Linked DNA regions of Homo sapiens. The protein of the gene in region 3 purifies or fractionates together with the protein of the main gene of each other region. This does not show direct contact. Each region holds a gene or a part of one and is shown on either strand. Other genes may lie near its edges. The genes, in order: LEMD2, TMEM68, TMEM169, ABCB1, RABEPK, GHDC and RTN4.

Region 1 (3,500 bases), on a different chromosome or scaffold from region 3:
CAACATGAAAAGGTGAGTGTCATCATTCTTCTGTGTTAGCAGCTTCAGTGAGCGCTGCTGCTGAGGATAAAATCCGTATTCTCCTCCGCCTTTTCTAACACAGGAAAATTGCTCAGCTACTCAGGGCAGCTTTTTTTTTTTTTTAAGCCAACAAATTTTAATCGTGCCATGCATCCAGTTATCCAGCTTGAGGTGGAGCTGCCCGAGGGGCTTCTGCTGGATGCAGTGCTGATGGAATTAGTAATTTGGGTGGATTAGAGAGGAAAAGAACAAAACTCTAGAGACGTTTTAATATCAAGAGCTATAACCTGAACAGAGACCCCCACAAACACCGAGAGTGGGAAGTGGGGAAGTGATGCTGCTCTGCCAGCAGGGGACAGGTCTCTCAAGGCTGCCTGGCTGTTGGCTGACACGCCCCTCCCCCTGGGCTGAGCCGCCAGATACAGCCTTTCAGCCTCATGAAAGGGTTTGCTACCTTTTCTAACAGTGCTCACCAGTGATAAAAATGAGGCAGAAACTGCCTGGTCAGAATAAAATCCAGTATTTCCTTATGCGATTTCCATAGTAAGTAAAACCAACATACAGAAAGAATAATTTCATCTACAAATAAAAACTAGCTCCCGAGGAGGGGAAGTGCAGAAAAATGCCTTCCCCAACAAACCATGTGGTGTTGTTGATGAATGAGAAAGGCACAGACTGAGTTACCTGAGACAGGATTTAGCTGGAACACCAGGCTAACATCCTAACACCTGGATTTTGTGTCTCATCTTGAAGCTGCTCCTTACACTGCATTCCAAATGCTTCTTGCTTTTGTTGCCCCACTTCCATCCTAACCCACATGATTCTGCTGGGAGACCCAGCCTCCAGCTTCAGACCTGAGACAGCTCTGTTGGAGCACGGGTGTTAGCTGACGAGCGAGGACAGTGGTTGCAGGCACCCATGCTGCGTCGCCACCCTGCCCACACTCACCAGATGCCCACGTCCTTGTTACTGCTCAGTATCCAGGTCAGTGCGGCTTCAAACTTGGCGGAGGAGCTGCTGGTCACATTCTGTGGGAGGGCGCGGGAGAAGGTTAGTTCGGCGTCTGGGCGGAGCAGCTGGAACATTATTCTGCTGCTGGATTAAGGAAGCCCTCTCCCGTGTCCTCCACAGCCCCAAAACCCTGTTCTGCTAAAAGCACAGCAAAGTGGCAGGAAGGAAATCGGGGGTTGATGAAAGCCAAGGAAGAGGCTATAACCAGAGGAGGTGATGCGGAAGCACAAGCAGGAAAACAGTGCGGGTCTGAGGCGGCCAAAAGAATATGATTCTCTCGAGGATGGAAGCATCAGGCCAGAGAGCTGGCAGCTCATCTTAGGGTAAAGCGAATAACAGCGTTGTGGCTGGGGGTGGGTGAGCCCAGTGGCCGGTGCAAGTGGTCTGGCCTCAGGCAAGTCCCTGACCCTCTCCAGGCCTCAGTTTCTTCATCTGTGAAATGCAAATGGAACCAGATGACCCCTAAGTTACTGGACAGGCAGGCGACCTGGAATACCAGCTCCATAGTTCTATAATCTACCATCCTGAGGCCACACAGGAAATCAGACGGCCCCTGGGCAGTCTGAATGGTAATCATACGGGGGAGAAGGGACAGCATGTTTCTCCTGAAAGCCGAAGGCAAGACGAGCAAAGTGAACCAAGGGAGAAGCAGGTAACAGGCACACCTACAGTGCAGCAGTCAGGAGTGAGCCGCCCCACTGCACATGGCGGCCTGGCTCTGGGGCAGTCACTACCATGGCTGCCTTAACTGAAGGTAGTCTAGCACAAAAAGCCATAAACCAAACCTTAACTTAAGGTAGCCTAGTACAAAAGCCACAAAGCAAACAAAAAACAAAAACCCCAACAGGGCTTGAAAGACCAATAGGAAAGCACCAGGCCCTCCCAGGAATGTATAAGCACTGAAGCCTACTTACGGCTATATATTCTTGGGCTTCCATAACAGGAATGCATTTGCTTTTTAGATTCTCTGGATTTCCACACTCAAAATTACCTAGGAGAAAAAAAACCACACATGCTCAAACACAAAGGAAAAATCACTCTGAAACAGACTAAAAAATGCAGCAAGAATCAAGCCATCAGCTCTAATAAGGAGCATGTTGCCCAGCGGCTCCTGGCTTCTGTGGGGCATCTTCACTCTGCAGCAAGATCAAAAGCCACTTAGCTTGGATCGATTCCAGATCATTAAAACCTGACCTGCAAAGCAGTGTGGCATTTTGCATTAAATGACTAAAAAGCTGCCCAATAGCAAGGTCTCTTTGCAATTGATCCCTAAAAGAATCAGACAGATAGCTTCGGAAGGTACCGGAATGGCACTATAAATAAACACAGCCTGAGAAAAAAGAAAGGCAGGGAGGCCATGGGCACCACGGGGATTCTGACTCATGACACAGGCAGGCGACCTGGAATGCCAGGTCTATTGTCTTGAGGGGCCCCTTGGAGGAAGAGGATGTCTGTGTGCTGGGCAGTGGGGCCTCAGCACAGCACGCCAAGGGGCAGCTCCCCCGAGTGGCTTTGGAGGCCTGCTCCCATAGGATGGAGCTGGCAGCCTCCCACTTAGTCCTGCCCAACCTCCCCGGTCCAGCCCAGGGGCCATCTCCCCTGGGAAGCCCTCAGCCCCTGGGGGCCTTTTGTTTGATGAAATGGCCCCAGATTTGGTGACCTGCCATAGCCCTTGGTCCTCGCTCCTGTGCTGTGGTTTGCCTGACTCCCCGAGAGCAGGGAGGGTGCAGGGCCACGCACGCATACACTATTTAACACGTGTGCGTGGCCTGACTGCCCTGACCCAGCACAGCCTGGGGGACTTCGGGTGGCCAGTGAGTGTGTTTCTGCATGCTGGGGAAGGGAGCAGCTGAAGGTCATATTTTAAAACTTTGAAACTGAACTGAAGCCTGTCGCCTTCCCCTAACACAGCCAGATCCTCCTACTTCAAAGTTGATCTTGACCCCAGGGGTCCCCTGAGACACAGGTGGCTTCTAGCATCCTCCTTTTCCCACTAGGACTCTTCCTGCCCTTGCCAGGCCTGCCTGGACCACGTAGATGGCCTCTCGATTCGGTTCCTCCTCTCCCTTTCCCAATCCAGTTGTTTTGTCAATAACACTTGAAAATGATTCTGCTTAACTGTGCTACTCAAGCTGCTGCCGCATTCACCTTCCTGGCACCTGGCTCTCAGCATGATACTCCCTTGCTCAAAGCCTCTCTGGCCCTCACTGCCTGCCAGATCAAGCTCTGGTGGCCTGGCATCCAAGGCCATCTATGGTAGGGCCCAACCAACACTTCCAAACTTCATTCTCTCATCTTCCCCTTCCTCCATGAAGGTGCTGCTTCCCACTCGAGATGTAATTTCCTGCCGCTTTGCCTTGTCCTTCCCCACATACATGTAACCAGTCTTACCTGGGCTTCAGGGCCTGGCACAGATGCTACCTCCTGTGACGCTCTCCTGACTGCTCCAGCTAAAAGGCATTGTGCCT
Region 2 (3,500 bases), on a different chromosome or scaffold from region 3:
ACATTGAGATAATTTTTTTTTCTTCTTTGAGATGGAGTCTCACCCTTTTGCTCGGGCTGGAGTACAGTGGCACGATCTCAGTCACTGAAACCTCTGCCTCCCAGGTTCAGGTAATCCTCCTGCCTCAGCATCCCGAGCAGCTGGGACTACAGGCATGTGCCACCATGCCTGGCTAATTTTTGTATTTTTAGTAGAGACAGGGTTTCACTATGTTGGCCAGGCTGGTCCCAAACTCCTGACCTCAAGTGGTCCACCCACCTCAGCCTCCCAAAGTGCTGAGATTACAGGCATCAGCCACCATGCCCAGCCATATTGAGATAACTCTGCACAAAAGAAAACATCAATATCTACCTAATTCAGTAAAAGTAACCCAATTCTTTACGAAATGATTACATACATTAATGGATATTGTTTTTTTATAGAGAAACAGATTTACAAAAGTTCATTATGCAATAAAAATTTATCAGTACTGTTTTTATCTTAAATCTTAAATGACTGAAAATATAGCTGTATAATTATTTTACAAATTCACTCTCTAAAACAGTCATTGGACTTACCAGAAGTTAGATAAATATCTTGTCCCAAACTTCAATGTCTCTATTCTGGAAAGCACAGTAAACAAATGTAAGAAATAAATTACTAAGAAAAAAAAAGATAATCATTAATACCTAGAGTTAGCATTTCTATAAAATAAACAGCAAGAGACATTCATAAATGTTTAAGAAATATGATTATAGGCCCACACTGGTATATTACAATTAAAAAGTACACTCATGCTACCATTGCTTTGGTGAAGACAACTCTACACTGTTTAGTGCCACTATATAGAGCCCCACCTAAGAATTTATTTTAAACAAAGTTTTCAAAAGCTTTGTTTCTTAGGAGAAAAAGTATGAAGATATATAACTGACTATGATTCTTTTTAGTAACTTTGCCAGATAACCTGAAGGTGAAACATAACATTCAATTATACAATTATATTAGCCCTATGATAATATTTTCCTACAAAAGATTTCCTTTCTCCATACTTTGATTGTATTCTTAGAACTATTTTATCATTATTCCATACTATATAATCTTACTGAAAATTATCTCAAGTCCTTTGTAGCTGAGGCAAAAAATGAATAAATGAAAGCAAAGGATGAAAGGAGAGGAGGAGATGTACATATAAGAAAAATGTATTGTTTTTATTCTAAGATTATCTTGCTAACTGGCTTATTAGGAGGGCAGGCACTGACTTGTTCTCCCAGGAATGAAACATTTCATCTAACTTCCTTGTAACCAATAGCATTTACTTGTGAGAAATCTGGTCTGTTATGGTTACAGGAGATGAACATAGCAAACATTGAGCCCACAACTTGGGCTTTATTTACATCATCATCTAATCAATCCATATAAAAAGTCAAATCACCAGCTGGGCGCAGTGGCTCACTCTTGTAATCCCAGCACTTTGGGAGGCCAAGGCAGGTGGATCACCTGAGGTCGGGGGTTTGAGACCAGCCTGACCAACATGGTGAAACTCCATCTCTACTAAAAATATAAAATTAGCTGGGAGTGGTGGTGCACGCCTGTAGTCCCAGCTACTCGGGAGGCTGAGGCAGGAGAAACGCTTGAACCTGGGAGGCGGAGGTTGCAGCGAGCCGAGATTGCACCATTGCACTCCAGCCTGGACAACAAGAGTGAAACTCCGTCTCAAAAAATAAAAATAAAAAAAGTCAAATCACTATAATTTACCCATGTTTGATCATTTAGAATGCAACATAGCAACCATCCATCAGAACTACTAAAAAGGTCTTCCTTATACTTAACTTCCCCGTAACTTTTCCCTACTGGACCTAGTTTTGTACCACAGACCCTCTTCCATTAAACAACCTTGTAAGTTTAAAAACAGCTGCCATGAGCCACAAAATTCCTTCTCCAGTCAGAATCCTTAATTCTTTCAACTACTTCTCAGCCCCTGGTTTCTTAAGCTTTCAGCACTCAAGACCACTCCGAGTTGCTGACTCCAGTTATCTGATACTGACAACACCATGTACGGTAACCCCTGTGCCTCCGTTTGCTAAAACCTATAAAACTAGGATAATAATCCTAACTACCTCATGAGATTACTGTGATTACATGGGCTAATCTGTGTAAAGAGCCTAGAATACCTTACATGTAATCAGTGTTACATGTTTGCTATCGCTATCATTCATAGAATCACAGCAGCTTTTTTGGTAACTCGATCATACTGACTCATTCAGCTAAAAATATGCTACTATTTTCTACATCTCTACAAACTACACTTGAAAAAAACCTTTTTGAGCCCAGCAAAGATTATACATCTCATCTGCTTATTAACTTTCATGAGGTGGGCTAAGACATAGCCTATCCTTTCAGTCTGTTTCGGGAACACAGTGGATGACATGAATGGGCTTAGGAGCCAGACTGAACATACTGGAATACTGGCTTTACAATCTTAAGCAAGTTACACCTCTCTGTGTCTCATTGTTTCTCTGAAAATGAAGATGATAAATCATTCTATAAAGACCTATTTAGCACCTATGTACCCTAATATGTACCACCCATTTCCTCAGCAGCAAATAAAGCAAAGTCTACAACCTCAAGTGACTTACATCCTAGAGGGGGAAGATAGACAGTAAACAAAGAACTAGTAAATACATGCTAGGTCAGATGATGACAGGTGCTAGGGAGAAAGATAAACAGCAGTGTAAGAAGAATATGGAGTTCTATGTCAGGCACGGGAGTAGGGGAAAGGAGGAGGTTGCTATGTTATATAAGGCATTCTGGGAAGACTTCTCTAAAAGATATTTTTCAGCAGAAACCTGAGGGAGGAAGGAAGGAAGCAAACTTCCTAGCTAAATGAACAGCAAGTGCAAAATATGTGCACTTGGTGTGGCCTGAGGAGCAGCAAGGATGCCAGGCTGAGAAAGTGACAGGGAGGGCACTTGGAAATGGACCAGAGAGGCAACACTGTAGAGCTTTCTATGCACGCTTTTTTTTTTTTTTTTTTTTTGAGATGGAGTCTGGCTCTGTTGCCCAGGCTGGAGTGCAGTGGCGTGATCTCCACTCACTGCAATCTCCGCCTCCCGGGTTCACACCATTCTCCTGCCTCAGCCTCCCGAGTAGTTGGGACTAAAGGTGCCCGCCACCACGCCCGGCTAATTTTTTGTATTTTCAGTAGAGACAGGGTTTCACCATGTTAGCCAGGATGGTCTCGATCTCCTGAACTTGTGATCCGCCCGCCTCGGCCTCCCAAAGTGCTGGGATTACAGGCATGAGCCACCGTGCCCGGCCTCTATGCACGCTTTTATCTAAGTGAGATGGAGAAGGCATCAGAGGGCACTGAGCAGAAGGGTGAGGTTGCCTGGCTTGGGTTTTAAGTGGCTGCTGTGTTGAGAATATACTACACAGGCAGCAAATAGGAATATTTGCAATAAGTGATGAAAGTGGCTTACATACATGTGGCAGAGGGAAGGCAGTAGGAAATGGTCAGTTTC
Region 3 (3,500 bases):
ACATACCACACTACACATACCACATACATACCACGCACACATACGTACACCATATACTCCCCCATACCATACCACCCACGCCTATCCACACACACACCACACATTACACACACACACCATACGACACACACAAACAGCGCACACACCCCCACATACACCACACCCACACCGCACACCACACATACACACACACACACACACACAACGCACCCACACAGAACCAAATAGCTATCTGCTGGCCACCCTAGAAGTCTGGGTGGGGATGGGAAAATACAGCCTTTAGGCAGGCATGGACCTTGGGCCCTGTGGACTCCTTGCCCCACAACTGAGAGATAAGATGAAGCCACCTAAAGAGCAGGGCCCTGGATAGTGGCAGGGACTCTGTTTACCCAGAGAAAAGGAATGTGCAGTCTCCCAAGCCCTGTCTTTTCACAGTCTTCATCACAGCAAACACCACCACCATCTATCCTCCCTGTCATTCCAGTCAATCACCCAGGAGTCATTATTGATTCCTCTCTTTCCCTCACTCCCTGCCTCTGATCAATCAGCAAGTTCAGATTGCATCCTGAATCCAGCTTCTCTTCTCCAGCTTTCTCCTGCTATCACCCGAACTTCTCCATTAGTGCTACTGAGGCTGCAGGGACACAATAGTCTCCCATCAGCATCCAGTCTTAACCCTTATAATTCATTCTTTATAGAGAAGCCAGAGTGATCTTTTACAAATATAAACAAGATGATGTCTCTTTGCTTAAAAGTCCTCCATTGACTTCCTCTTGCACTTGAAACAAATATCAAACTCTTTACCGAGACCTGCAAGGGCCACCATGATCCAGCCTCTGCCTACCTTCCTGTCCTCCTCTCACCATCCTCCCTCTTATCTCCTACACTCCCTACACTGAAATAACTCCTTTCCATAAATGGGCCAAAGCTGCTCTCACCTCAGAGGCTTTGCCCTTGCTGTTCCACCTCCTCCAAAAACTCTGCCCTAGAACTTTTCATGGTGGCTCCCTCATGTCATTTGGATCAATTCAAATGTCACCTCCTCAGAGAAGCCTTTCACAACCATGCAGTCTCTCCCCCACCACCTTCCACCCTCCACCAGTACTCATCTTCCCATCAGCATGGTTTTGTCATCTTTAGAACTCATACTACTACCTGAAAGTATCTTTTATTTGTTGACTTGTTCACTATCTGTCTTTCCCTGAAGGTCAACTGCAGGAGAGCAGAGAAATTGCTTATCTTGTTCACTGTGAGCATATGTCTTAGAGATCTATCCATCTACACAAATAGATCTGCCTCATCTCTCTACGGCTGCACAATAATAATAATTATTATTATTTTTTCGAGATGTTGTCTTGCTCTGTCACCCAGGCTGGAGTGCAGTGGCAGGATTTCGACTTGCTGCAACCTCTGCATTCTAGAAACACAGATTCTCCACCTCCCAGGTTAAAGCAATTCTTGTGCCTCGGCCTTTGAAGTAGCTGGGACCTCAGGCATGCCCCAGCACACCCTGCTAATTTTTGTATTTTTAGTAGAGACGGGGTTTCACCATGTTGGCCAGTCTCAAACTCCTGTTGTTGGTCTCAAAGTCCTGACCCCACGTGATCTGCCTGCCTTGGCCTCACAAAGTGCTGGGATTATAGGTGTGAGCCACCGTGCCCAGCCTCCACAATAATTCTTAATACAAACACATCATGGTTGCATTAGCTTCAACAAATGTTCTTATATATGCCTCCTTATACAAGGATAACATGGGCATAAGTTTCATGGAGTAGATATTGAGAATTTCTGGGTCATGAGGTATGCATGTTTTGAACTGTGAATTTTACTAAATATTTAATAAACGTTGACAAGTTTCCTCCACAAAGTGGTTGAAGCGGCTTCCACTTTCACTAAGGTGCATGAAGTATATCCATTTGCTCATATTGATGTAATCACATTTTACCCAATTTTTGGCAAGCCTACATGTGAAGGAATACTATATCTCATTGTTGTCATAATTTGCCATATGATTTTCTTCTGGCAAATTTTCTCATAATTTTCTTTATTCATATGAAAGTCAACAATTATTGTTTATTTTACATACATTAAGTAGTTAGCATAGTCTGCTTGTGTTACCAGTTTTTGCGTATAAATCAGCCTCTTCCATTTCATTAGGAATTCTGAAAGGGTGGAGATTTCTGTATCATCTAGAAAAAAATGTAATAGGTGCTCAGTAAATACTGACCATTTGTTGAATGAAGACTGTAATATTGCACCAGGTCAGTGGCTCATGCCTATAATCCCAGCACTTTGGGAGGCTGAGGCAGGTGGATCACTTGAGGCCAGGAGTTCGAGACCAACCTGGACAACATGGTGAAACCCAGTCTCTACTAAAAATACAAAAACTAGCCCGGCATGGTGGCACATGCCTGTAGTCCCAGCTACTCAGGAGGCTGAGGCAGGAAAGTCACTTGAACCCAGAAGGTGGAAGTTGCAGTGAGGCGACATCATGCCACTGCACTCCAGCCTGGGTGACAGAACAAGACTCTGTCTCAAAATAAATAAATAAAAGGTGGTAATATTGCAAGAAGAAATGTATCACCAAGAAGAAATAGGACAGTGAGCATATGCCTGTCTGTTCTGGAAGATGCCCTTTTGGTTTCCTTCCCATGGCTTTAAACAAGTGGGCTAGAGAGACTTACCATCATCCACAGGATAGTCTAGGAAATCATCTCCCTCCTCCTCTTTAGGCTGATCTCCACCTTCTGATTCTCCGGGCTCCTCATCTGTTTTCTCATTGTCTGAGCGGTAGATGATGATGGATTCTGGGCGTGACTCTTTCCTCTTCTTTTTCCTGTGCCCCATTGTGGATTCCCCATCCAGCGCCAGGGCAGCAGCCACAGCCTTCCTGAGAGAGCCCTGGTGGGGGCTTGGAAGCTGGACCTGGCCTTCTACTGCTGTTGGCTCTTCCATTCCAGACCTGACGTCTACCTATGTCTTATAAAGAGTTGGACTTGTTTGAGTAAACTCACAGTTCACACATCACAGAACTTCTTCCTAGATGGGGCTATGCAAAGATGTCCCAAGGATGCATTCCACCTGAAAGATAGGAAAGCAAAGCCATCAACAGGAAGCAAATGGGGTGAGATGGACAGGAATGTGGGAAACGATCCTCAACTTAGCAGAAGCCTTCCTCTCCCTTTACTTCTTGCAATACTTTATTTTGGGAATGCAATCTAAATCTCTTATAATAGACAGTGAATAAACTTTTGCTACAGTAATATTTTTGTCATTTATACAAACATATAATATTTGGCAAAACCCATGTGAAGGAATACTATATCTCATTGTTGTCATAATTTGCATTTTCCTTATTCATATGAAAGTCAACAATTATTGTTTCTTTATTTTATATACATAAGTAGTTAGCATAGTCTGCTTGTGTTACCGATTTTTGTGTATAAATCAGCCTCTAGTTGGAGCATGCAGAGTATAAGGAAGTTGGGTGAGGAAGCCTT
Region 4 (3,500 bases), on a different chromosome or scaffold from region 3:
TCTGAGAGCTAACATTTCCTCCTCTAATTGCTTTGGCTGTCAGCGACGTCTTTATTTAGAGTCCTGTTTTTAAGTTCACCACAAAATTGAAGGACACAATCAGAGTTCACAGAAAATATAAAGCAAGAGAGTAAAAGTAGGGAACAAGCTTGTAATGATTTAAGAGTAAACTGAATAAAGGCATAACTGTCTTTGAATACAATAACAAACATTTATGAGTAAGAGTGACCGCTGTGAGGAAGTAAAAAGAGTCCTAGACTAAAGATTGAAAACTCTCTTTTCATTTGAGTCATTAAATGCTACCAGCGTCCATACACAGCGGGTGGGCATCCATCTGACTTGTACTAGCAGGCATCCATTCTGATTGGTCAGTGTCCATGCTGTTCCCATTGTTAAGAATTTTAAATATCACTTCTCAGTACAACTAATTACATGCCTACATAATGAAAATGTCTTGCTCTTAATTCTATTCCTTCCTAGTTTGTCTTCTTTCCTATCCCCCATCATAGTCGTTTAAACTCACTACTCCCTGCCAGACACTTCCCTCATCCCCAGCAACTAAGACAAAAGGGCATACTTCCATGTTCTTTTTACATTTCCCAAATTTGTTGATTCTACTTTTTTTTCCTCAGATGATGTTTCAATGCCCTCTCTCCATCAATGATTTTGTCTCATCCCCAGTCATAAAAATGCTCAAGAGTTCAACCCCTAAACATTTTCCCTGGACTCTGCCTCCCCACTCAAGTGCTGTCCTTATTTGCCTTTCTTTTACTTTCCATCTTCTTGATAATCTATGCTCACTTACATCTCCATTTCTTCCCCTAATCATACTTCAGCCACCCTTAACTGTTTCCTACCATCACTACTTCACTAAGAATATTTTAAAATGTCAGAAATAGCCCATTCATTGCTAGATTCTATCATGTCTTCTCAGTCTCCTCCTTACCCAATCTCTCTATACCATCTGTCATTGCTGACCACCATCTTTGAAACAGTCTCCATCCTTGGCTTTCATCTCACTCCTAGCACCTGTCCTGTATCTTTCTGGCTACTTCCATTTTTGTTGGTTCTTTTCAAGTCAGCTGAAACCTAAGTACAGCAAGGGAGACAGGTGGTACAAAGGGTGCTTGCAAAGGAGGGTAGAGGGGTAGTGTTGAGGGGAGCCTGGAGAAGTTGGCTGGGACAGATGACACCACTTGGAGACCATATTTAGGCTCTCAGACTTTATCCAAGTGGGACTGTTGTTTAAAGGTTTGAAAAAACATGGCTTATAGTTGAGAATTAAATACATTCAGACATTTGGATGATGAAAACCTGAACTGAGCTAAATGTGAAAGTGTGCTCACCACTTTCCCTGCCAAGGGGTCGTAGAACCGCTCCAGGAGCTGGACCACTGTGCTCTTCCCACAGCCACTGCTGCCCACCAGAGCCAGCGTCTGGCCCTTCTTCACCTCCAGGCTCAGTCCCTGAAGCACTGGGATGTCCGGTCGGGTGGGATAGTTGAATACAACTTCACCAAATGTGACATTTCCTTCCAATGTGTTCTGCAATGAGAAGAATAACAGTAAATTTGAATGCTGCAATACTGAAAATAAAGTGTATAGCTAACTCTCTCGATTACCAGGTGTCAGAAGATAATTAATTTGTGTTACAATTGGCTTCACTTCAAACTGCTAGAATTTATTTTATTTTAATTTTATTATTTATTTATTTTTTATTTTTTTGAGACAGAGTCTCACTCTGTCACCCAGGCTGGAGTGCAGTGGCATGATCTCAGCTCACTGCAACCTCCACCCCCCAGGTTCAAGCAATTCTCGTACCTCAGCCTCCCAAGTAGCTGGGATTACAGGCGTGTGCCACCACACCCAGCTAATCTTTTTTTTTTTATTTTTATTTGAGATGGAGTTTCACCATATTGGCCAAGCTGGTCTCGAACTCCTGACCTCACGTGATCCACCCACCTTGGCCTCCCAAAGTGCTGGGATTACAGGCATGAGCCACTGTGCTTGACCTCAGACTGCTAGAATTTAATAAATGAGATCTAAAAGAGTAAAAGCTTTCATAGCATGTATTGTTAAGACAATATGAATATGCAATACAGCTACAATAACTCAAATCTGTTCCTCAGGAATACAGTAACTTACATACAATAAAATCTGATAACCAGCCTGGGCAACATAACGAGACCCTGTCTCTACAAATAATTAAAAAATTAGCTGGGCATGATGGCACACGCTTGTAGTCCCAGTTACTTGGGAGGCTGAGGCAGGAGGATCGCTTGAGCCCAGAAGATCAAGGCTGCAGTGAGCTATGATCATACTGCTGCACTCCAGCCTGGATGACAGAGTAAGACTCTGTCTCTAAAAAAAAATTGTTTTTAAAAAATCTGATTAATAGGTTTTGCTTATAAAGTGAGCAGTATTCCTATTTCCCTATAACCTTTGCTACGTAAAAGTACTGAATGTTGATGTATATTATTAGCAGTAATTGAAAGGAATCTATGATCTAGGAAGTTTTATTTTATCATCAGCATATTTGAAAGTACAAATTTTATTAAGTTTCCACTTAAAATACTTTCATTCAGGAGTCAGGAGTAGATCAAACAGTTGAAACATCAAACTCACCGGCATTAGGCCTTCCGTGCTGTAGCTGTCAATCAAAGGGGTTTTTTCAATGATCATGATGATGTGGGCTGCTGATATTTTGGCTTTGGCATAGTCAGGAGCAAATGAACTGACTTGCCCCACGGCCATGGCACCAAAGACAACAGCTGAAAATACTCTGGAAAGCACAAACACAAAACATGTGCACAGCATTACCATCACAATGCTAGAAAGCTGACACTCCTTTTTTTTTTTTTTTTTTTTTTTGAGGTGGGGTCTTCCTGTGTTGCCCAGGCTGGAGTGCAGTAGTGCAATCAGAGCTCACTAAAGATATGATCTCCAGGGCTTAAGCGATCTTCCCACCTCAGCCTCTGTAGTAGCTGGGACTACAACTGTGCATGACCACACCAGCTAATTGTTTTATTTTTTGTAGAGATGGGGGTCTCCCTATATTGCCCAGGCTGGTCTCGAACTACCGGGCTGAAGTGAACCTCCTGCTTCAGCCTCCAAAAGTGCCGGGATTATAGGTGTGAGCCACCATGCCTGGCCAAAAGTTGACACTTCTATAACCAGAGAGCTTTGCCTCTAATAGTTATAAAACAGATGTTAAAAATAAAACAAACACATTTCCTTATAAGTTCATGTCTATGTGATAGATTGATTGCAAAATGGCCCATTTTTTTCCCTCTGTATACCTCTCTCTGTATCCTCATCTTCTTGCACTGTGACCTTTGCAGCACCCTTTGAATCTGGGCTGGCCTTGTGACTTGCTTTGGCCAACAGGATATGGTGGAAATCACTTTTGCCAGTTCCAAGCCTATGACTCAGGGGGCCTTATATGCTTTGTGAGCATGCATGCATGTGTTCTCTCTCTCTTTCTCTCTCTCTCTCTCAGAA
Region 5 (3,500 bases), on a different chromosome or scaffold from region 3:
CAAGCGATTCTCCTGCCTCAGCCTCTTGAGTAGCTGGGATTATAGGCGCCCACCACTACACCCAGCTAATTTTTCTATTTTTAATAGAGATGGGGGTTTTACCATGCTGGCCAGGCCAATCTCAAACTCCTGACCTCAAGTGATCTGCCTTCTTCAGCCTCCCAAAGTACTGGGATTACAGGCATGGGCCACCATGCCCGGCCTCTTGTGACTTTAGGAAAGTCACTTTGCCCTTGATAAACCTGAGTAGCCCACTTGATATAGCTGTTCTCTGAAGTCCCTTCCAGCTTTGACATTTAACAAGTTAAAAATTGTATGTGTTACCAACAATTGTTTTTATTCTGTTGTTTTCAGATTATGCTACAAGTTAAAATTCCTATTTTCTATGTCAGCAAAGTTAAATGGTAATTAGTATAATCCAAATGTACTGGAATTATAATTGGATTTATATATATGTGTGTGTGTGTGCATGAAAGTTTATTTGTATGTACGTAAATAAAATAACCTTTGGCTACTTACCAGGATTCAGGACTTGTAGACAATTTCGATTTCCTGATTGGTTGGCACCTCCAAATACCCAGATACGGTCAGGTGTGCAGGAGGGAATGAAGCTAGCATGTTCATACCGGGGCAAGAGGCCCTTGCAGGTATCTAAGTCCCACTGGTGTTTTCCTGGAAAACATTTCACCCAGTTCCTAGATTGGGGCTGCCAATTATTATATTGGTTGGCACACTTGAGGAGGGTCATGAGAAGAGGGCCATAAACATAAATGAAAACCACTGAATCACTTAAAGGGCATGTTGTCAACCTCCAGAAAATTCTATAATAGATACTTAGGGGGCTGTCTGCCTAGTCCATAGACCCCGTTCTATGGAAACTGTCCCCACTTTGTCAACCACAAGGATAGATCCCAGATGACATGTTTGTACTATGCTTTGACTTTGTAGCTTTAGCTGATTGGGTTGAAGGTAGCCAATGAAACCAGAATGAGCCAACCAGATCAAGTGCTTCCACTTTCTCATGATCCTGGGCTCTACTTCCTGTCCTTGAATTCTTTGAAACACGCCTGTATTGGCCAGGTGCAGTGGCTCACGCCTGTAATCCGAGCACTTTGGGAGGCCCAGGTGGGCGGATCACGAGGTCAGGAGATCGAATCCATCCTGGCCAACATGGTGAAACCTCATCTCTACTAAAATACAAAAAATTAGCCAAGCATAGTGGCACGTGCCTGTAGTCCCAGCTACTCGGGAGGCTGAGGTAGGGGACTCGCTTGAACCCAGGGTTATTTTACTTGGTAAACCAAGCGGAGGTTGCAGCAAGCCAAGATTGTGCCACTGTACTCCAGTCTGGGAACACAGCAACACTCTGTCTCAAAAAAAAAAAAAAGAAAGAAAGAAAGAAACACGCCTGTATCTGACTAAATAAATTCCCCCTTTTTCCTCTGGTTTAAGTGAGATTCTGTTACTTGCAAATAAATGATGGCTGGCTAAGACAAGTTCACAGAATAGTAATACCTAACCTTGGTCAGGCGCTGTGGCTCATGCCTGTAATCCCAGCACTTTGGGAGGCCGAGGTGGGCGGATCATGAGGTCAGGAGATCAAGACCATCCTGGCTAACATGGTGAAACCCTGTCTCTACTAAAAATACAAAAAATTAGCTGGGCGCGATGGCAGGCGCCTGTAGTCCCAGCTGCTTGGGAGGCTGAGGCAGGAGAATGGCATTAACCCGGGAGGTGGAGCTTGCAGTGAGCTGAGATTGCGCTCCAGCCTGGGTGACACAGTAAGACTCCGTCTCAAAAAACAAACAAACAAACAAAAAACCCTAACCTTTATTATTAACAATTATTTTACTTGGTTAACCAATTACACAAGACCTTTACAGGCATTATCTTGTTAGATCTGAAGCAAGTTATTATCCCTACTTTATAGAGCACTGAGGTCCAGATGGTTGAGATGGTGTAGCCAGGGTCACAAAGCTATTAATAGGTTGCAATAAAGATGTAAGTTGAACTAATTTAATGTAATTGAGGGCTAGAAGTGATTTAATTTACCTTTGAATTTTTTTTTTTTTTGAGATGGAGTCTTGCTCTGTTGCCCAGGCTGGAGCGCACTGGCGCGATCTCGGCTCACTGCAACCTCTGCCTCCCAGGTTCAAGCAATTCTCCTGCCTCAGCCTCCCAAGTAGCTGGGATTAAAAGTGTGAGCTACTATGCCTGGCTAATTTTTGTATTTTTAGTAGAGATGGGGGTTTCACCATATTGGCCGGGCTGGCCTCAAACTCCTGACCTCAAGTGACCCACCCGCCTTGGCCTCCCAAGGTGCTGGGGGATTACACCTCGTCCAGCCTACCTTTGATTTTTTTAGTGCAGGGAGTAGAAATTCAAATGCCTAGGTGGGAGTAACAAAAACTGTGGCAAACTGGAGAATAAGAGCCCTCTTGATAGGTGGCAGCTCAGTTCCAAATAATTGTTGCCATGTAGACAGGGAGGCCTACTGACATTAGATTTTCCAACATTATCAAGAGAAGCCAAACCATTTAAATTTTTATATGTAGATTTCTGCATAATTGGTTGGTAAACAATTTAAGATTATGCTGGGCGTGGTGGCTCACGCATGTAATCCCAGCACTTGGGGAGGCCGAGGTGGGTGGATCACTTGAGGTTAGGAGTTCAAGACCCTCCTGGCCAACATGGTGAAAACCCATCTCTACTAAAAATACAAAAATTAGCGGGGCATGGTGGCACGTGCCTGTAGTTCCAGCTACTTGGGAGTATGAGGCAGGAGAATCACTTTCTTTTTTTTTTGAGATGGCGTCTCGCCCTATCACCCAGGCTGGAGTGCAGTGGCGCGATCTCGGCTCACTGCAAGCTCTGCCTCCCGGGTTCATGCCATTCTCCTGCCTCAGCCTCCCGAGTAGCTGGGACTACAGGCGCCCGCCACCACGCCTGGCTAATTTTTTTTTTTATTTTTAGTAGAGATGGGTTTTCACCGTGTTAGCCAGGATGGTCTCAATCTCCTGACCTCGTGATCCGCCCACCTCGGCCTCCCAAAGTGCTGGGATTACAGCATGGTGAGCCACCATGCCCGGCCCAGGAGAATCACTTTAACCCAGGAGGCAGAGGTTGCAGTGAGCCAAGATCGTGCCTCTGCACTCCAGCCTGGGTGACAGTTTGAGACTCCATTTCAAAAAAAAAAACAAAACTTAAGATTAAAACAATAGGGAAATGTTACATGGACCTAACAAAATACGTAAGTGGGTCACCATTGTTCAACTTCTGCCCTTGTGTAGAGCAAAGAATAATCGTTTCTTTTATTTTCTTTTTTTTTTTTTTTTGAGACGGAGTCTTGCTCTGTTGCCAGACTGGAGTGCAGTGGCATAATCTTGGCTCACTGCAACCTCTGCCTCCCAGATGCAAGCAATTCTCCTGCCTCAGCTGGGACTACGGGCACAAGCCATCATGCCCAGCTAATTTTTTTGTATTTTTAGTAGAGACAGGGT
Region 6 (2,908 bases), on a different chromosome or scaffold from region 3:
CCAGGACCTGGGTGTGGGACATGGAATGGAGAAGCTATTCAGAGGCATCTGGATCCAGTGCTGCCTCTACTGAGGAGGAGCTGAGGTCTGCCCCTCCCATCAGCCTCCAAGATGGAAAACCTTAAAACTCCAGTCCAGGCAGTGGGAGGGAAGGAAGCCAAAATCTAGCCCAGTTTCTTTCTTTCTTTTATTTTAGCCTCTACAACCTTGTGGAGGCTGCGTTTCCTCATTAGTATGGAACAGTGAACCCAGATGGTCTCCGGAGTTGCTTCCTGCGGCGATGCCTTATGATGTGAAGTAATAGCTCTCCCTTCCCCACCGCAGAAGTGGTTTGTGGGTGCTGGCCTAGGATGTGCCACGAGTCCTCCAAGGCTCCTGTGTGCGCATGCAGCCTTGCCAGGCCCAGAGCAGAATGTTGGGGGAAAGTCCTGGAGCTCAGTGGGGGAATGGCTGGGCCGGGGTCCACTCCCGTTTCCCCAAAGCAGACCCTGAGGCAAGAATCTGGGTGCAAGAGGTTTATTTGGGAGCCATCCCAGGAAGCCCAAGGCGGGGGAGTGGGGAAGAGAGGGAAGGGAGAGCCCCCGCAGGAAGTACATGAATGAGTGGGTTACTGCTGCGGGCAACTGGGACTCCATCCTGCTGGGCATCCTCTGAGAGTTTATGTAGAATACACTTCAGAATTGTCCTGCTCAAGGACAATGAAGCTGAGGTCCTGCTCCTTATTGACTCAGGGTTGCTGCTCCTGGGGACATTAACCCCCCAACACTTCTAGCTTGCCCAGTGCACTGACTGAGCACACAGCTGTGGCCACCAGAGAACCTCTTTGGGCTGTGATACAGGAAACCATCGGTGTGCATGGTAACTCTCTAGCAGTGTCCTTCATGCCGGGACATGGGGACACGGGCAGGCACTGCTGGCATCTGCTAACCCCGGAGGCCCATACTTCAGAACCGGTCAGCTGGGCCAAGGCCTCTCTAAGGCCCAGCGGCTCTCATGGGCAAATGTCAGGTGACACAGAGTCAGAGACCCTGGCCAAGGACTCCCCATCCGGAGAGGTCCCAGAGGGAGGGGCGAGGTGGCCTCTGGGGGGAGCTGGGCGGTGGGGCAGGACTTGACTCAGGACACCACCCTCTCCTGCAGACACTGGGCCAGGTGCCTGTGCCGAAGGACCCGGGGCATCGCAGGGGGGAAGGGGGAGGAGGGGCAGGCAGCGAGGGCTGCCCGGAGTGCTCGGAAGGCTCCCTGCCCCACCAGGTGGACTCTGGCAGGGCCCACGCTGCCCCAGAACCGCAGGGACTTGTAGCGGGGAGAGGCTTCCTGAAGGCAGTGGTCCAGCTGGGAACAGAACAGCCTGAGTGAGCTGGTGTGTGACTGTGAGTGTGCACACGAGGCGTGTGTGGCTGTGCCCAGGCTACATGTGTTTAGAAGTTTTGTGTGGACAGGTGTGTGTCTGTGGGACTTAGCCCTCCCCTCCCAGAGCCCCAGGGAGCTTCTCCTCCGCCACCCCTCTCCTTCCCATCAGCCCTGATCTCCATGGCACCCTGGGAGTGTGCAGAGTGAAGGGGTCTACAGTCAGACCCTGTCCTCGTCTCCTTTACCTTGTCTCGATTTTCCTCTGACAGATTCCTCAGCCCCCTCAGCGCCACAAACACCTCGTAGTGGGGAGCAGAGCCCGCAGAGGAATCTGTGAATAGACCCCATGTGCACACATACTTCCGGTGAATGGGCAGCTGCCAAGTCTAGTGTCCTCTGCCCTATCTGTTCTTCCCCACTCTGAGATTCATAGGGAAAAAAGAGTTTCTTGGTGGGGAGTGGGGTAAATGGAGAGGAACCTAGAGCTTGATCCTAAATAGGAGACAGATCAGGAAAGAAAATGGGTAGAGACTGCAGCAGGATGGATGAGAGTTAGATGCAGAGAAGGACTTTTGTAGGAGTAGTAAAGGAGGCTTATCTCTTTCCTAGCAGTCCCCTGGCAGGGGAGGTAGGAGTTGAAGGGTAGCTCAAGGATGGTAGGCAGGAGCCGGTGGGGAGGCTCACCCAGAATGCTGCTCTCCACACAGCCATGGTCCAGCAGCTTGGCCCCCGCCCACTGCCCCACTGCCCGGCCCAGGGCCTCAGAGAACAGGTCTTCACCAATATCTTCCCCTCGCACACTCAGGGTCTGGTCCAGCCTGAAGAGGAGGAAGGGAGAGGCAGTGGAGCCCAGGACACAAGGATGGCCCTTCAGCTCCCCGGGGTCACCTACCTGCAGATGAACCTGACGACTGGACACTGATTGTAGGCACCAACCACTCGCACCACATCACCCAGGCGGCACCTGATGGGGTGCAAGTGGGAGTGAGGTCGGGCCCAAGGTCTTCTGAGCTCATGCCCCAGGCCCCCAGCACGGTCCCATAGGGCCCCAGGTAGCAGGGGCTGTGCAGCTGATCACCTGGTGAGGCTGGCGCGGTCCGTCAGCACCAGCTCATACTCCTTGCCCTGCTGGGCCTCGGCCAAAAGGAGGGTGGAGGCAGCTTCCTCCTGGGTGCCTTCCTTGACTGGGAGCAGCTCGATAAAGGGGGCCCCAGGGGGCAGAAGGTAGAGCCCATGGGGCTGCTCTGGCTGTAGGTTTAGGCCCAGCACCCCTGTGAAAGCAAAGCAGCCTCCTCAGCGTCTGCTGGTGCCATCGCTTTCTGCCAGGCAATAGCCCCTCCTGGATCCCAGGCCTGATCCTCTGAGCACCTGATCCTCCTGCTGCCCTTCCACCACATCCTTCCTGGCTCCCCCAGCCTCAGCGGGCTGCCTCTTAGGCCCTCACTGGAAAGAGGCAGAGTGCTGTGGTCCTGGAGGGGGCAGACTTGGGAGTGAATCCTGGTGCCACATGAATTTGTGCAAGACTCTTTTTTTTTTTGAGACAGAGTCTCGCTCT
Region 7 (3,500 bases), about 160 Mb from region 3:
TAGAAGATGAGGAGTAACTCAATCTTTTCCTTTTTCTTTATGAAAAAGACATACTTGAGGGAAACTGAGGTAAGAGAAAAATATGAAATATATTTTTAAACAGGAATTTTTTTTTTTTTTTTTTGAGATAGTCTCCCCCTTGTCACCAGGCTGGAGTGCAATGACGCAATCTTGGCTCACTGCAACCTCCGCCTCCCAGGTTCAAGTGATTCTCCTGCCTCAGCCTCCCGAGTAGCTGGGATTACAGGCGCCTGCCACCACGCCTGGCTAATTTTTGTATTTTTAGTAGAGACGGGATTTTACCATGTTGGCCAGGCTGGTGGTCTTGAACTCCTGACCTCCAGTGATCCACCCACCTTGGCCTCCCAAAGTGTTGGGATTACAGGCATGAGCCACTGCGCCTGGCCACAGGAAGTTTAATGATTGACAAAAGCATACTAATCTTGTATTGGTATGGGAACAAAGAAAATAGTTCTGTCTTTGAACATTAGGGATTCAGGGGGTGACAGCACTCTCTTGGAATCTTGTGTGTTGGAATGCTGAGGTTGGAAGGCAATGGGGAAAGAATATTGCCTGTTCTACAGAGTTCCCTAATTCCATATTGATGATACCTATTGGGAAACTTTAGTTTTTTTAGTAAGTGTAAGAACATTGTGATTATGGTTGTGGATAGTTAACCATTTTCAATGTGTCTGGATTTCTTAATGCATTCAAGAGTTTGTTCATTAATTCAACCCATTATTGATTACCTACCAAGAGACAGGATCTATTCTAAGCTTTGAGGGTATAGCAATAAGCAAGACACATGCTCCCCCTTGGGAGAGTACAGATAATAAGCACATAAATAAAGAACCCAGAATAGTGGTGTTATGAGGAAAATAAACAGGATAATGGCATAGAGAATGATGGGGATTTATGGGGGCTTTTTTAGGTTAGGTGACACTAAGACAGGCTTAGAAGGTGAGATTTGAGCTGCAGAGAGAAAACATTTCCAAGCAACTTCAGGGCAAAACCCTGAGGCAGGAATGAGCTCTTTGTGTCTGAGAATCTAGTGTAAGACTAGTGAGAAAAACTAGTGGGAGAGTGAAGAGGTGGCCTTACCCACCCAGATCATTGGGGGTCTCTAACAGGCAATGGTAAAAATGTTTAGCTTTTTAAAAAAATAAAAATATGCTTATTAAATAATTATATTGTGATTTTGGAACTAAAATAAGTTTGGAAGATTCAGGGCTACTGAGAGGACTGATGTGAGACAAAGGTGAGAAATGTGCAGAGCAGGGTTAGAAGCATAGACTAGCCTGCCTGGAAGAGAGGGTTTCTAGATCACTGACACTTGTCTGTTTAACATTGCTGTTTACGTTATTTATGAGTAAGCCCTGATTTTCATCTGTTAATAAGTTGTAATTTTACTGTTTGCTGTTGTGCCCAGAGCATCTCCATCGCAATGCAGTAACTGAAGTGAGACTAAAACCTCTCACTTGAGGGCCATTTTTCATGGGAAAATACTTGGCTTAGTGGTTGGTTAAGTTAGGCTTTGAGGATATGCGCAGAAAACTCTGGCTAGAAATCGATTTGAGAGCAGTGCAAACATAATTAAGGGTGACTTCGAACTGGTCTCTGGACATGTTCTAAACCAAGGTTAATTAAGACCGAAAATATGTAGATCTGGATTCTGAAAGATACTGAATGCCAAATTAAGGAATTTGGATTTTATCATTCCACTTTAATCCATGCTCTGCTATCCAGTTGCCCTTGCTTTTGGTAATTTATATTATGAAACCAAAATTGTTTTTTTTAATTGTTGTTTCTAAAGTTATTGTTTTTCACCCCTTCTCGAATTAGAGCTTTTGGCTTTGGGAAGACAGCCATTGAAGGTTATTTGAACTGAGGCAAGGCACCGTGAAAGCAGTATTAGAAAATTGGTGACAATATTCAAGATAGGTGGGAAGGAAAAGCAGATGAATTATTTAGAAAGCTATTACAGTAGTTCTGAGAAAGATGAGTAGGGCCTGAACTATTTCATTATTTGTTCATTCAGTGAAAATGGAATAGAAGGGAGGAATATAAGAGTATAAGAAGCACGCTTTCTTTAATTGGCTGTGAATCTGTTTTTATAGTTAGTTTACGAAGAGGCTGTATGAAAGACGAATTGATAGGACTTGGAAACCATGAATGTAAAGACAAAGAAAAGAATATTAGTGCTTATTAAATCAGTTTCAGAGACTGCCAAAATTTAATTGCCATGAAAATTTGTATAAAATTGAATATTGCTCATAAATACAGATTATGGGTTGGGGCTTAAAAATTACTAGTTTTTACTATCATGAAGCCATTTATTATATGATCATTTTTATTGGCGTAGTAGCATGTATTAGAAATTTTAAGATTTTGAGTGACATATGGTTTAAATATTAGGTATCAGTTCTTAATATAAAGTCCAAGTTCCCAGGAAGTGGATGCTTCTAAACACAAGAAAGTCATGCCCTGTCCATTCCCCACTTTCATTTTTGTGATTCTGAATAATTTCTGGTTAAGCCATTTCTTATTTTTAAAAGTTGGGAATAAGTAGTATACTCCTCATGGATATGGTGAATTATGTTTCAGATTGGTTCCTGGGCAACTGAGTGTCAAATTTGTGGTCTTTTTTTTTTTTTTTTTTTTTTTTTAGTGATTTGCAAACTCTCTCAAATCCTTTTTAAAATGAAGTGATGGGTATATGTGGAACCACTGATAAATAACTGCATGGAATAGTGTTTAGAAAACATGCTATTTTAGTGCTATATTATTGTAAACTTAAAGGATTTGCCATGTTATAAAAACATTTCTGAAAAGGAGCATGTTACCTATTGTCCATTAATTGGCTTTGTTTTATGTGTAGTTATTTTCTTTTTAAAAATCTAAAAACCAAAAAACAATGGTCTCACTTTTGTCCAGGCTGGTCTCAAACTTGGGGCCTGAAGCAATCCTCCTGCCTGGACCTCCCAAAGTGCTGGGATTACAGGCATGAGCCACCATGCCTGGCAAGTTTTTTTGTTTGTTTGTTTGTTTGTTTGTTTCTTTTGAGACAGAGTCTTACTCTGTCGCTCAGGCTGGAGTGCAGTGGCATGATTATGGCTCACTATACCCTTGACCTCCTGGGCTTAAGCAGTCCTCCCACTTCAGCCCCCCAGGTAGCTGAGACTACAGGTGCACACCACCATGCTGGCTATTTTTAAAATTTTTTAAAAAAACTTTTATATTTATGTATTTATATTTTGGAGACAGGGTCTTGCTCTTTCACCCAGGCTAAAGTATAGTGGTGCAGTCTTGGCTCACTGCAGCCTCATCTTCTGGGCTCAAGTGATCCTGCCACCTCAGCCTCCCAACTAGCTGGGACCACAGGCACGTACCACCACGCCCGGCTAATTTTTGTGTTTTTCGTGCAGATAGGGTTTCGCCATGTTGCCCAGGCTGGGCTCAAATTCCTGAGGTCAAGCAGTCTTCTCGAAGTGCTGGGTTTA

What was found.
Region 1: the proteins of TMEM169 (region 3) and LEMD2 purify together in Homo sapiens (co-immunoprecipitation; 2 studies listed by BioGRID and IntAct, with this or other methods). This does not show direct contact.
Region 2: the proteins of TMEM169 (region 3) and TMEM68 purify together in Homo sapiens (co-immunoprecipitation; 2 studies listed by BioGRID and IntAct, with this or other methods). This does not show direct contact.
Region 4: the proteins of TMEM169 (region 3) and ABCB1 purify together in Homo sapiens (co-immunoprecipitation; 2 studies listed by BioGRID and IntAct, with this or other methods). This does not show direct contact.
Region 5: the proteins of TMEM169 (region 3) and RABEPK purify together in Homo sapiens (co-immunoprecipitation; 2 studies listed by BioGRID and IntAct, with this or other methods). This does not show direct contact.
Region 6: the proteins of TMEM169 (region 3) and GHDC purify together in Homo sapiens (co-immunoprecipitation; 2 studies listed by BioGRID and IntAct, with this or other methods). This does not show direct contact.
Region 7: the proteins of TMEM169 (region 3) and RTN4 purify together in Homo sapiens (co-immunoprecipitation; 2 studies listed by BioGRID and IntAct, with this or other methods). This does not show direct contact.

Annotation. Positions count from the first base shown.
Region 1 is NC_000006.12:33,779,131-33,782,630, forward strand, and holds part of LEMD2 (LEM domain-containing protein 2), read right to left. Parts: intron 2,024-3,500; coding exon 1,947-2,023; intron 1,050-1,946; coding exon 970-1,049; intron 1-969. UniProt on the Homo sapiens protein: Nuclear lamina-associated inner nuclear membrane protein that is involved in nuclear structure organization, maintenance of nuclear envelope (NE) integrity and NE reformation after mitosis.
Region 2 is NC_000008.11:55,763,379-55,766,878, forward strand, and holds part of TMEM68 (DGAT1/2-independent enzyme synthesizing storage lipids), read right to left. Parts: intron 603-3,500; 5' UTR 558-602; intron 1-557. UniProt on the Homo sapiens protein: Catalytic subunit of the alternative triglyceride biosynthesis pathway, which mediates formation of triacylglycerol from diacylglycerol and membrane phospholipids.
Region 3 is NC_000002.12:216,095,419-216,098,918, reverse strand, and holds part of TMEM169 (transmembrane protein 169), read right to left. Parts: intron 3,082-3,500; 5' UTR 2,956-3,081; coding exon 2,685-2,955; intron 1-2,684.
Region 4 is NC_000007.14:87,513,885-87,517,384, forward strand, and holds part of ABCB1 (ATP-dependent translocase ABCB1), read right to left. Parts: intron 2,782-3,500; coding exon 2,625-2,781; intron 1,545-2,624; coding exon 1,347-1,544; intron 1-1,346. UniProt on the Homo sapiens protein: Translocates drugs and phospholipids across the membrane. Catalyzes the flop of phospholipids from the cytoplasmic to the exoplasmic leaflet of the apical membrane.
Region 5 is NC_000009.12:125,210,542-125,214,041, reverse strand, and holds part of RABEPK (rab9 effector protein with kelch motifs), read right to left. Parts: intron 673-3,500; coding exon 520-672; intron 1-519. UniProt on the Homo sapiens protein: Rab9 effector required for endosome to trans-Golgi network (TGN) transport.
Region 6 is NC_000017.11:42,188,587-42,191,494, forward strand, and holds the end of GHDC (GH3 domain-containing protein isoform 1 precursor), read right to left. Parts: intron 2,625-2,908; coding exon 2,432-2,624; intron 2,318-2,431; coding exon 2,246-2,317; intron 2,172-2,245; coding exon 2,038-2,171; intron 1,774-2,037; coding exon of another isoform or gene 1,685-1,773; coding exon 1,599-1,684; intron 1,336-1,598; coding exon 1,117-1,335; 3' UTR 501-1,116; downstream 1-500.
Region 7 is NC_000002.12:55,043,952-55,047,451, reverse strand, and holds part of RTN4 (reticulon-4), read left to right. Parts: intron 1-125; exon of another isoform or gene 126-636; intron 637-3,500. UniProt on the Homo sapiens protein: Required to induce the formation and stabilization of endoplasmic reticulum (ER) tubules. They regulate membrane morphogenesis in the ER by promoting tubular ER production.